Regions from separate parts of the Homo sapiens genome. Here region 1 is linked to region 2. Evidence: fine-mapped expression QTL. A gene starts in region 2. The other region holds a variant in brackets. All regions are shown on one strand. Distances are from middle to middle. Region 1 overlaps PLXDC1 (plexin domain containing 1). Region 2 holds the start of PLXDC1 (plexin domain containing 1).

What was found. PIP is the estimated chance that this variant, and not a neighbour inherited with it, causes the effect. A credible set is the group of variants that fine-mapping cannot tell apart.
Region 1: its variant is the best candidate, but not a certain one, in a credible set for the expression of PLXDC1 in blood mononuclear cells (TOPMed, PIP 0.60).

The regions. Positions count from the first base shown.
Region 1 is chr17:39,064,639-39,070,004 of GRCh38, forward strand. PLXDC1 (plexin domain containing 1) reads right to left here. Exons shown (of 14, transcript NM_020405.5): 13 at 5,218-5,366; 14 at 1-3,321. The coding sequence ends at 3,202. It also overlaps the pseudogene RDM1P5. Among named protein-coding and RNA genes, the nearest start is that of LINC02079, 40 kb to the left of the region's middle. The variant T/C (reference allele first, on the strand shown) is at 2,235.
Region 2 is chr17:39,148,416-39,153,781 of GRCh38, forward strand. PLXDC1 (plexin domain containing 1) reads right to left here and starts at 3,222. Exons shown (of 14, transcript NM_020405.5): 1 at 2,947-3,222. The coding sequence starts at 3,022. TRC-GCA2-3 (tRNA-Cys (anticodon GCA) 2-3) reads right to left here; the gene lies at 5,319-5,366. RefSeq lists enhancers at 4,726-4,875, 5,248-5,366.

The DNA.
Region 1 (5,366 bases), 84 kb before region 2:
TGGCTGATGGTTTTCCAGTTGCTCCGTGGTTTATCCTTTGTGAAGATGCAAGTGACAATCAGAGTTGGAAACGTGGGGCCTCAGCTCTGCTTGATAAACCAGGCAAGGAAGAGCTGAGGGTGGAGTAGGGGGGTGCCGGTGGAAGGAGGGTCTGAATTTGAGGAAGAAAAAGGACAGTGCAGCAAAGAGTTGGGTTCCTTTCAAGCTTCTAAAGGACACAGTGGGCTGTAACAGAGCTCTCTGAATGAGGGAAGCACAGCCCACCAGCAGAGCATTTACCACCTGTGTGTGTCTCAAATGGCCAGTGGGGCAGTTCCTGCTGTGGCCTGATTCCATGGACAGCACCACTCATCTCACTCCCCAACTCTAGCACACGTTTTCCCACTGGGAGCTCGGCCAACCATTTTGGATCCCTGAAGGGAAAGAATGTCAGGAGTGGAGGAAGGGGTGGTGATGCGGTGAAGCCTCTGCTGCTAGCCCCTGCAGGCAGAGAAAGTTCCAGATGCCTCGGCCTCAGTCAAAGCAAGCCTGGCTGACCCATAGGATGTCAGTGGCATGGGGAGTGGATGTATTTGGCGGCAGATGGCCTGTTTGTTTATGACAAAAAGTACTAGAGATGTGTCACCAAGAGAGGCCTATGGATTTCTTAAGCCAAAACACTTGGACAAAGTCTCCCAAAAAAATAGAACCAAGCATCTCATAGAGTTAATGATTGTCTACAGGATCCCTGACAATGTAAGCATTTCTTTTTCCGTTCTTTTTTTTTTTTTTTTTTTCGGAGACAGGGTCTCACTCTGTCACCCAGGCTGGAGTACAGTGGCATGATTATGACCCCCCACTGCAGCCTCAACCTCCCGGGCTCAAGTGATCCTCCTGGCTCAGCCTCCCTAGTAGCTGGGACTACAGGTGCACCCCACCACACCTGGCATTTTTGTTGTTGTTGCCCAAGCTGGTCTCAAACCCCTGGGCTCAAGCAACCCTCCCACCTCAGCCTCCCAAAGTGCTGGGAGTACAGGCACGAGCCATCAGGCTTGGCCAAATAAGCGTTTATTGGACAGATCCAGTTCTCCAAAGTTTAGAGCAGGTTAACTTGGTAGCTATGGAGTATGACCAGATGGAGACATGGGTCTTGTGGCCGGCCCTGCGACTGGCTGACAGTCCAGCAAGGCAAGGAGGTAGGTACTTCACACACTGTGCACACCCATCTCAGGCAGCCGTAGACCCCTACGCCTCCCCACCCCACAGGCACATGCAGGCTCCAGGGAAAGCAAGTAGTTGGCAGGTGCCTCTCCAACCTGGTGTCTTTGGGCATCCTTGCCCTGGGCGACACAGTGAGACCCTGTCTCAAAAAAAGTCCCTCCCATGCCAGCTGCCTGTGTCCCAACCACTCAGGTGCTTTGCCTCTCAACAGAATCCACCTGCAGTTCCCTGCTAGGTATGTCTCAAGGAGCCCTCTAGCCACCCGACTTGTCTTTAATGCCTATAAAATCCAGTTCAGAGGAGGAAAAATATTTATCAGGCAAGTCCTGCCTTTGGAGGTATGTACAGGCACTGACATCAGAACAGGGCAGTGAGTAAACCCGGCACCGAACAGGCCATCAGAATAGGGAGCCCCACATGGTAAATGTGGCTGCGCATAGCAAGCTCACCCAGGGAAGGCTGGGCTGCAGGTTGGGGTAAAGCCCTTGATGCAGGCTGTAACATGTTTTGATGCAGAAGTTATTGGTTCTGAGTAGAAAGGGCAAGGTAAGAGAGCAAAGCCTAAAAATGCAGTTTCCCCCTTGAGTTCTTTTCTCTCCTCTTATTTGACTTCCCTCCCATGATAACATGCCCCAAGGGCTGAGAGCCACTATACTGTGTTTAACAGATGGAGAGAATACCTTCTTTAGGCTTTCAGAGCTACAGAAGCTGGGGCTAAAATGCCAACTCTATAGCCATGAGGATCTGCTTTCTTTTTTTTTTTTTGAGACGGAGTCTCGCTCTGTCACCCAGGCTGGAGTGCAGTGGCACTATCTGAGCTCACTGCAACCTCTGCCTCCCAGGTTCAAGTGATTCTCGTGTCTCAGCTTCCTGAGTAGCTGGGATACAGGCAAGCGTCACCACACCCAGCTAATTTTTTGTATTTTTAGTAGAGACATTTTAATTATGTTGGCCAGGCTGGTCTCAAACTTCTGACTTCAGGTGATCCGCCTGCCTCAGCCTCCCAAAGTGCTGGGATTACAGGCGTGAGCCAC[T/C]GCACCTGGCCAAGGACCAGCTTGTGAGTCTAGGGAACCTGGAATGCAGCAGCCCCAATCTTGACTTTAGTTAACCTGTGTCATATGCAGGGGCTTTAAAGGTGGCCAGGAGCAGGGCATCTGGCTATCTGGCTATCTCCAGGTAGTGGGTCGGGGAGGCTCTGAGACTGCTACAGAGCAGACCATTGACAGCCTGTAACTGAGTCCAAATTCATTCTGCTTGCTGCGTCATAGCCAATACGTTGAGAGACAAGGAGTTGGAGCAAGGAAAGGGACTTTATTTCGGAGAGCCAGCAAACCAAGAAGATGGTGGACTAATGTCCTAAAGAACCGTCTTAAAATTATGCGGGCTTTGCCTTGTCTTTTATGTTTAGGTCGGGGGAAAGGAAGGGGCTGACAACCGCAGACATCTGGACACCAGCAAGGGTCCAGGGGAGGTTTGCAGAACTTCTTTGTCCTTGGCTAACAGTCTGTCATGTGACAATAGCCAAACCTCCTCATTCCTATAAATCTTTAACAAAAACAGTTAGCTGTTTACATGCTTCCCCTTTAATCCCAGAGTTAGTTTTGCAAACGGCATGATTCCTGTTTTTGCGTTTTATGTCAGTGCTCTAAAGTTATCCTAGCCTAGGTGCAGGAATAGGTAAAGGCCCCTTAAACAAAAATGGAGTTAGTTATGTTAGTTCTTCTGCTGTTTCATGGTTACAAGACACAGAAGAGAACCCTTGCATCAAAACAGGATGAGATTAGGTTGTTGTTCCTATAAAAAATCCATGTGGTTGTTTTTTGGCCCCCTCTTCAATATTCGGGGTGTGCTGACGAAGCGAGCAGCAGCTCTGGAGCCATAAACCACCATCTCATCTCAGCCCAGGGCATGCTGGGAGAGGCCAGGAAAAGTCACTTCTCTTCTTTGCTTTAACTGTCTTTTCTGTGGCCTCAAAGTCTTCAAAGGGGAGACTTGGTGTTCTCAGCACTGCTCAGCCTCCATGAAGCCCTCCTTCTCATGGCCCGAGGGCTCCACCTCCGCATAGGTGGAATGGTCAGGGTGGCTGCGAAACTTCATGGCTGGCCAGTGGTGAGGTCTACGCTGCAGAAGGCACAGAGGCAAAGTCAGTGGGCATGCCCCCGCCCCCATGGGGACCCCACACTCCTGAGCGACAGAGCCAACCAAGACTGTCTCTTATAAGGGCCCTGGGGCACTTGGGCCTACCAGGAGCCACACAACTGACCTTCAGGGACCCTCTCCCTAAAATGTTCCGTGCTGTGATCCCCCAACCACTGGGAAACCTGCCGAAAGCTAGAGTGTGGAAGGAGGACACTTTATCCTTCACTGTGTGGTCTGCAGAACTCACAGCTGAAAGGTTCAGCAATACACCAAGTGGAGACCTAGGACTGCAATGTGAGGGAGTGGCTCAGAGATGGCTGGCATGATGCTTGAGGCTCTGAAAATGCCAAGATAACCCTCCAAGGTAGCACAGGATCCACATCAGAGTCAACAGGGGGCTTATTAAAATGCAGATTCTGGCCTGTGCAGTGGCTTATGCCTGTAATCCCAGCACTTTGGGAGGCCAAGATGGGCAGATCACTTGAGGCCAGGAGTTCAAGACCAGCCTGGCCAACATGGTGAAACACTGTCTCCACTAAAAATACAAAAATTAGCTGAGTGTGGTGGCACGTGCCTGTAGTCGCAACTACTCAGAAGGTTGAGGCACCAGAATTGCTTGAACCCAGGAGGCGGAGGCTGCAGTAAGCCAAGATTGTGCCACTGTACTCCAGCCTAGGCGACAGAGTGAGACTGTCTCGAAATAAATAAAATGCAGATTCCTGGGCCTGCCTTAGACCTGCCCTATCAGAATCCCTGTGGCCCAGGGATCTGCAGTTCCCAGGTGTTACCCAGGTAGGCTAAGACTTCAGAATGACTAAGCCTCCTAAGAAACTGGGGGAATGACCTAGGCCTGTGGGTTAATGAGGCTGGTGGGCTTGTGACCCACGTGGAAGAAACTAGGGTCACAGAGGCACCACTGCTGCACTCTGTGGGGAACTCGTAAGAAGCCAGAAGTGGAGGACTGGGGGCAGGAGCTGCTGAGCTCTGCAGCCCCGAGTGAAGGGGGCTGAGCCTCACATCCCATGCTGCCCCTCAGGCTGGCTCTTCAGAATTGAGACATTCAAAACTTAGTATCCTCAATTAAAGCTCCCAGAGGGCAGCTCTTATCATTATTTGGCTTGTCTATTTTATTTTTATTTCTATTTTAGAGATGGGGTCTCCTCTATTGCCCAGGTTGGAGTGCAGTGGTATGGTCAGGGCTCACTGCAGCCTCAAACCACTGGGCTCAAGGGATCCTCCCACCTCAGCTTCCCAAGCGGCTGGGACCACAGGTACGTGCCACCACGCTGGGCTAATTTTTTAAATTTTTGTAGAGACGGGGTCTCACTCTGTTGCCCAGGCTAGTCTCAAACTCCTGTGCTCAAGTAATCTTGCCTTGGTTTCTCAAAGTGCTAGGATCTTAGGAAGGAGCCACTGCACCTGCCCCTCAATTTTAGCCTTAAAAGCAGGTATCAGTAGGCAAAAGAGGCAGAGACCCTGGTTCCCTCATGGCTTTGAGTAAGTACTGAGCCTGGCATTTGGGCATGAGAGACCATAAATCACTGGAGATAGGCTGCACAGCCACTAGATGAGCACTATGTGGCACTGTGGCCTTCTTTCTTTCCTCTGGGGATTTTTTCTGATTTCACAAATGGGGGAACAAAAGCAGAGGGGCTGTTCCACAGGACAGGAGGGCCGAGGGAGTTCTGAGGTGCTGATTTATCAGGGTGCAGGACTTAACGGGCGCCAGCCATCTCGAAATGTGCCAGGATGGGGTGGATGAAGTTTTCTCAGGTATGTGGCAGGGGAGAGGGAGAAGGGGAGAGGCAGGGACCGAATGGCCCAGGAGACGCCGACGCAGAAGCAGACAGGAGCCCTGTGGCCACAGATGACACGGACCTCGATGAAGAAGAGCGCAGCATTGGATGTGGGGTGGCCATTGATGTAAATTCCAGCCAGGATGATGGCCGCCACGAGGAGGACTGCCAGCACGATGCCCACGATGGTGCCCAGGTGCACAGGAGTGCCCTTTGTCTTGGGGGACAGGT
Region 2 (5,366 bases):
TGTTGCCCAGGCTGGAGTGCAGTGGTGCGATCTCAGCTCACTATAACCTCTGCCTCTCGGGTTCAAGCTATTCTCCTGCCTCAGCTTCCTGAGTAACTGAGATTACAGGCATGCACCACCACGCCTGGCTAATTTTTACTAATATACTAATATTAATAATATTAATAACAATACTAAATATACTAATTTTTGTATATTTAGTAGAGACGGGGTTTCACCATGTTAGCCAGGCTGGTCTCAAACTCCTGACCTCAGGTGATCCGCCGGCCTCGGCCTCCCAGAGTGCTGGGATTACAGGCATGAGCCACCCTGCCTGGCCTAAATCATTTATAGACATGGGGTCTCACTATTTTGCCCAGGCTGGTCTCAAACTCCTGGTCTAAAGCTATCCTCCCACCTCAGCCTCCCAAAGTGTTAGGATCACAAGCATGAGCCACCGTGACTGGTGCAAGCCCCCATTTTATAGACGGGGAAACCTTCCTCAGAGAAAGGAGGAAGCTGTCAGGGTCACCAGTAGTTGGTATTGAGCCTGGCCTCCTGCAGGACTCCCAGGCCAGGATGCCAACTCTCGCTGCCTCTTCTTTATCTGTCATATGCACCTCTGGTTCCATCTGACCAGACTGTCAGTTCCCTGGGCCCCTGCTCTGCACCCCAAGGCCATTTTCCTGTCTGTCATCCTGGTCTCCCCTGCTGTCTGACTCTGTCTTTGGGCCACTCATCTCTCTGCTGCTGCTGTTCTAATGATAGATGAGGTTTCAAGGCTCTACCAAACAAGCCTGTCCATCAGGAGCGAGGGGAGATCTCAGCTACTTCCCAAGGCCCCCCACCAGCCCCACAAACCCAGAGCCTTGGGGAAGGATGCTAGCATCTCTTCAGGTCCTGCTCCCAGCTGCCCTTCCACTGGTCACAACAACTCCGCCATCAATCAGGTCAGGCTGCCCCTCCTTAGCAACTCTCCCCCAGAACGTCCTTCTCCTACATCTGGCCTCCCCAGACACCCGCTTCCTCCTCATAGGTCCTCCTGCCTGTGAAATCCCACCTGGCCTGTGAAAAGGGCACCGGACTGGGAGTCAACAGCTGCCGCCTCTGGCTTCTTACAGATTCCTTAAGTCTAACCTCTATCCCTCCTGCTGCAGAAAAAGTGCATTTCTCCTGGCTCAATCTCTGTCAAAGCCAAGAAGACAGGATAGCCTCTACTTAGAGAAGTGATTCAAGTCTCTGCCTGCCCCACTCTTCCTGGTCTCCTCAACCGTCTACTACCCCAACCCTACTCTGAAGGGGCCGCCCTCAGCCAGGCCCGGGTCTGGCCACTATCTCCCAGCCCATCCTTGTTACCTCCCAATTCCCCCTTCCCCAGCCCTCTCCGTGGTTCACACAATCCAGCCAAAGGTTCAGATCCTCCCCTCATAAACTCTGTTACACCCAGAGTTCAGAAGATCACACCAGGTTGAGGATTCAAAGGAGCCCAGAAATTATTCATAACATATCCAACTCTCTCCTGTTTACCTTGATTTTTTTAAAGTATCAGTTACCCATAAAGACCCTAACAAATATGAAAAGGAAAGGCAATTATAAAAGATCCTTCATTATTCCACGCACAAGAGTCAAAGATTTTGCCAACAGCCTCACTTTATAAATGCAAAAATAGGTCCAGAGAGAGAAAGTAACTTGTCTAAAGTCACACAGCAAGTGAGATGGCGGGACTAGAAGCCACGTCTCTGGCCACCCTCTGTGTGGTCTCCCTGAAAATTGGTGGTTCTCACCAGCAGCTTCTCGGTTCGTCAGCTCCACTGCCCTCTGCCCATACTTCCCACTGTCAGCCTCCTTCCCCTCCCACCCCCAACATACTCTTCTTCTCAATAGGGACCCAGGTCTGTCTCAGCTACATGCTGGGACCATTAAAGTCAAGAACATTGCCACTGACACTGTGCCTGGTGCCAGCACACTCCTGAGACACAGCAGGTCAACCACAGCACTCACCTCAACAGCGCCTCCCTCACCCCACCTGAGGGGCACCCATGCCAATGATGCACAGGTATCTATCTTCTTAATCATCTCTGCTGAGGGGCCAGGCTGCAAATTACCCATCTCCCCAACCCCAGAGAAAGTCTAGGTGCTTAGGGGAGAACAGAGACTATGAAAATTATACCATGAGGGATTCCAGGTAGATCTCAGAAAGGACTTCCAGGTGGGAGAGATGAGTTTGGAGAACTGGTAGGGGGGAAGAGGAGTGTGCAGAATGGGACGCCTCCCTCCACCCCCTACCCCAGTGCCCCATCTAGAGCCAGAGTAGCTGAAAGCCAAAGGCTGCCAGGGCAAATGGGAGCAGGTGTGAGGAGGGGGACTCTTGAGGCTGGGGGTGCAGAAGCAGCAAGTTGCTTCTTCCTGGGCCCACTGCCTCTCTACTGACACCAAATAGGCAAGGGAAGGTGACCGAATGGCTGCTGCCTTCCCAGGCAGAGACGCTGTGTCCCCACCATCCCCCTGGCTGCTCCCACCTATCCCTAGCCTGGATCAGCTTTGGGGTCGGGGGTGTGGCAGAGAAGAGGAAAAGAAGGCATGGCTGGGGCAGGGGCCTCCCCAGGCTCCCATCTCATCAGAATTCAGCCTTGCCTGGGGTGATCAGGGGTCCTGATGACTCTCCCGCTGTCCCCTTTCAGAGCCCATGGCCACATAGAGCCCCCTCTCCTAAGGTCCCTCCAGTATCCTTCCAGGAGAGAAGGAGAGGTCCGGGCATCGGTGTCTCCACCGTCACTCACACACCCTATGTGTTTGGGAAAGTGGGGTCCCTATCCACCTGCCCACAGCCCACAGCTCTCCTGGCCTCCTGCGGACAATGCCCCCCTCGCGGACATCGCCAGGCCGTCCACACCTGCCCATGCCCACACCTGACTGCCCGTCCCTCCCCGCCCCCGGCCCACCCGGGCCGGCTCCCGCCAGTCCTACCTGCTCCGGGCTGGGGGCTCAGCGCCCGGGCAGCCTCCCTGAGCACCAGCACCAGGAGCCAGAGCTCGCCTCGCATGGTGGGTGCCCGGACCTGCCCCCGGCCTGCTTGCTGCCCCGGTCCTGACGAGGGAGGGGGCCCTGGCTCAGGCTGCGGCCGCGCGGTCCCCGGGGCTGGCGGAGGGGCGGGCGGCGAGGAGACGGCGGAGCGCGGGGCCGGGCGAGCCGGCAGGAGCGGCGAGAGCGCGAGCGGAGCTGGAGGCTGCGGCCTCCGGGAGCAGGCGGGGAGCTGGGGGGGCCGCTGGGTCGGTGGGGGTGGGGGGGAGCTGGGGCAGGGGGCGGGGCGGGGGGCGCGGCGTCGTTGGGGGCTCTCCCGGCGCCTGCCCTCAGCCCTAACGGAGCGCTCCCCTAGAGCTCTGCAGCCGCTCCCAAGGCAAGGGGTGCAGAGTAGGGGACAGGGCGGGAGCCCCTCGGGCTGAGAGAACCCCTAGAAGCATCAGCCGCCCCGCGCTCCTCACTGAGCTCCTGGCTCCCTTTCCCTCCTCCGTTCCGCCGGGAAAGCTGCAGAGAGAAGGCCCGAGGACTGGACCCCTGGAAGGGACAGGCGCCCCATCCCTGGGTCACGGGCCCCTGACTGTTCCCCGCCCCCAGCTCCTCCAAGCTCTGCGACTTCCTGAGCTGTTCTTCGGAATTCTGTGCGTCTCTGATGCTTTGTCCTCCAGCCCCCACCCCCAGAAATCTCCCCCTGCAGCAAAGACCCCCAGCTTTTCTCCCCAAGAGGGGCCTGAATCCCACCCCCCTTCCATGACTCCACCTTATCCCTCCACCCCCCATTTCCAGCACCGATTTGCCCCCCAAGCCTAGCAGACGTGAGGGTGGAGGGGGCCTGGCTACCCCTTACTCTGCAACAGTCTGGACCCCTCCCCACGAGTAGGTAACCCAGGCCTCCTGCCTCTCTGGGGCCTCCAGGCCTACTCAGGGCCAGACCCAATCAATCTTCAGAGCCAGCCCCAGACGAGGAAATGGCTCACCCCACCTGTCACCACCTTCTGACAGGCTCTGGGGATAGATAATCTTTTTATTTTTTCTTCCAGGACAGAATAAAAATACCCGCAATGTAGGATATTTAATAGACGGCAAGGAATCAGGTCAGGACACGAAGATGCCTCTTCCCTCCCCTGACCTACTTCGTTCTTGTGACGGCAAGGAGCTGGGGCGCTGGAGAGTGGGAGACGGGGTGAGGGGGCATCCTGGCTTCTAGTGGGCTGGGGCCTAGGGACTAGAAAACCGCGGAGAGGAAGGGTGCGAACGCTGAGCGCCATTGGAGAAATTTTCCAGGAGGAGGGATATGGGCGGGGACAGGAGAAGGTACACTGTGGGCTGGAAGAGACGGATTCCGTGGCACTGAGGTTAAAAAAAAAAAAAAGAAAAGAAAAGAAAAAAAAACACCTAAGAAAGGAAACAACTAAAGGCTCTCTAATCTCTTAGAACGCCGGTTCCTCCTTCCGCCGGGCCCAGAGTCCCAGAGACTACCTCCTCCAGCCCTAAACCCAATGTCCCCTTACCGTGGAACAAGGCAAGGCCGGTCTGTAAATTCTTCTTGATGTCTAATTTAAATCCCAACTTGGCGGACTCTCAAACAGAATCAGATAGGCAGCTACCTCCAGCTGCAGCTACTTGCTGCCCTCAAGTGGCCACGTGACGAGCCACAACCCTCTTGTCCTGCGGGTTTCCTCTTTCCCCAGCCTGCCCACCCCCTGTCTCCGACCTCCTGCCTTCCTCGAGGTCAAGGTGAGAAGTCTCGGGACGGATTCCAGCTCCAGCCCCGGCGTCTTTGCACATTCCTCCATCTGGGGTACCTCGTGGTCTGTCTTACAAGAAGAGCTCAGGCTGAAACATAAACTTGTAAATAGTAGAAGCAAATGTGTAAATTTTAACGTAAGCCTCTAGAACTTGAGATCGTAATCACCTGCAGGGTGTGTGTGTGTGTGTGTGTGTGTGTGTGTGTGTGTGTGTGTGTGTATTTTGTTTGTTTTTTGAGACAGGTTCTCGCACGTTGCCTAGGCTGGAGTGCAGTGCTGCGATCATAGCTCACTGCAGCTTCCAACTCCTGGACTCAAGCGATGGGGAGCGTATATGAAAACACAGATTTCTGGACTCCACCCTCAAGTTTCTAATTCATTAGGTCTGGGATGAGGCCCGAGCGTACCCAGGTAATGCTGCTGGTCCCAGGACCACATTTTGAGAGCCACTGCTGTTGAATCCCCAGTTCCTTTCAGTCCCTCACTGCTCCTCGTCTGCCAGTAGGAGTAAAAGCAAACAGCTTAGGAAAAATCGACACCCAGGACAAAAACAGTATCTCGAAAAGGCCAAAGAGGGGGCACCCGGATTTGAACCGGGGACCTCTTGATCTGCAGTCAAAT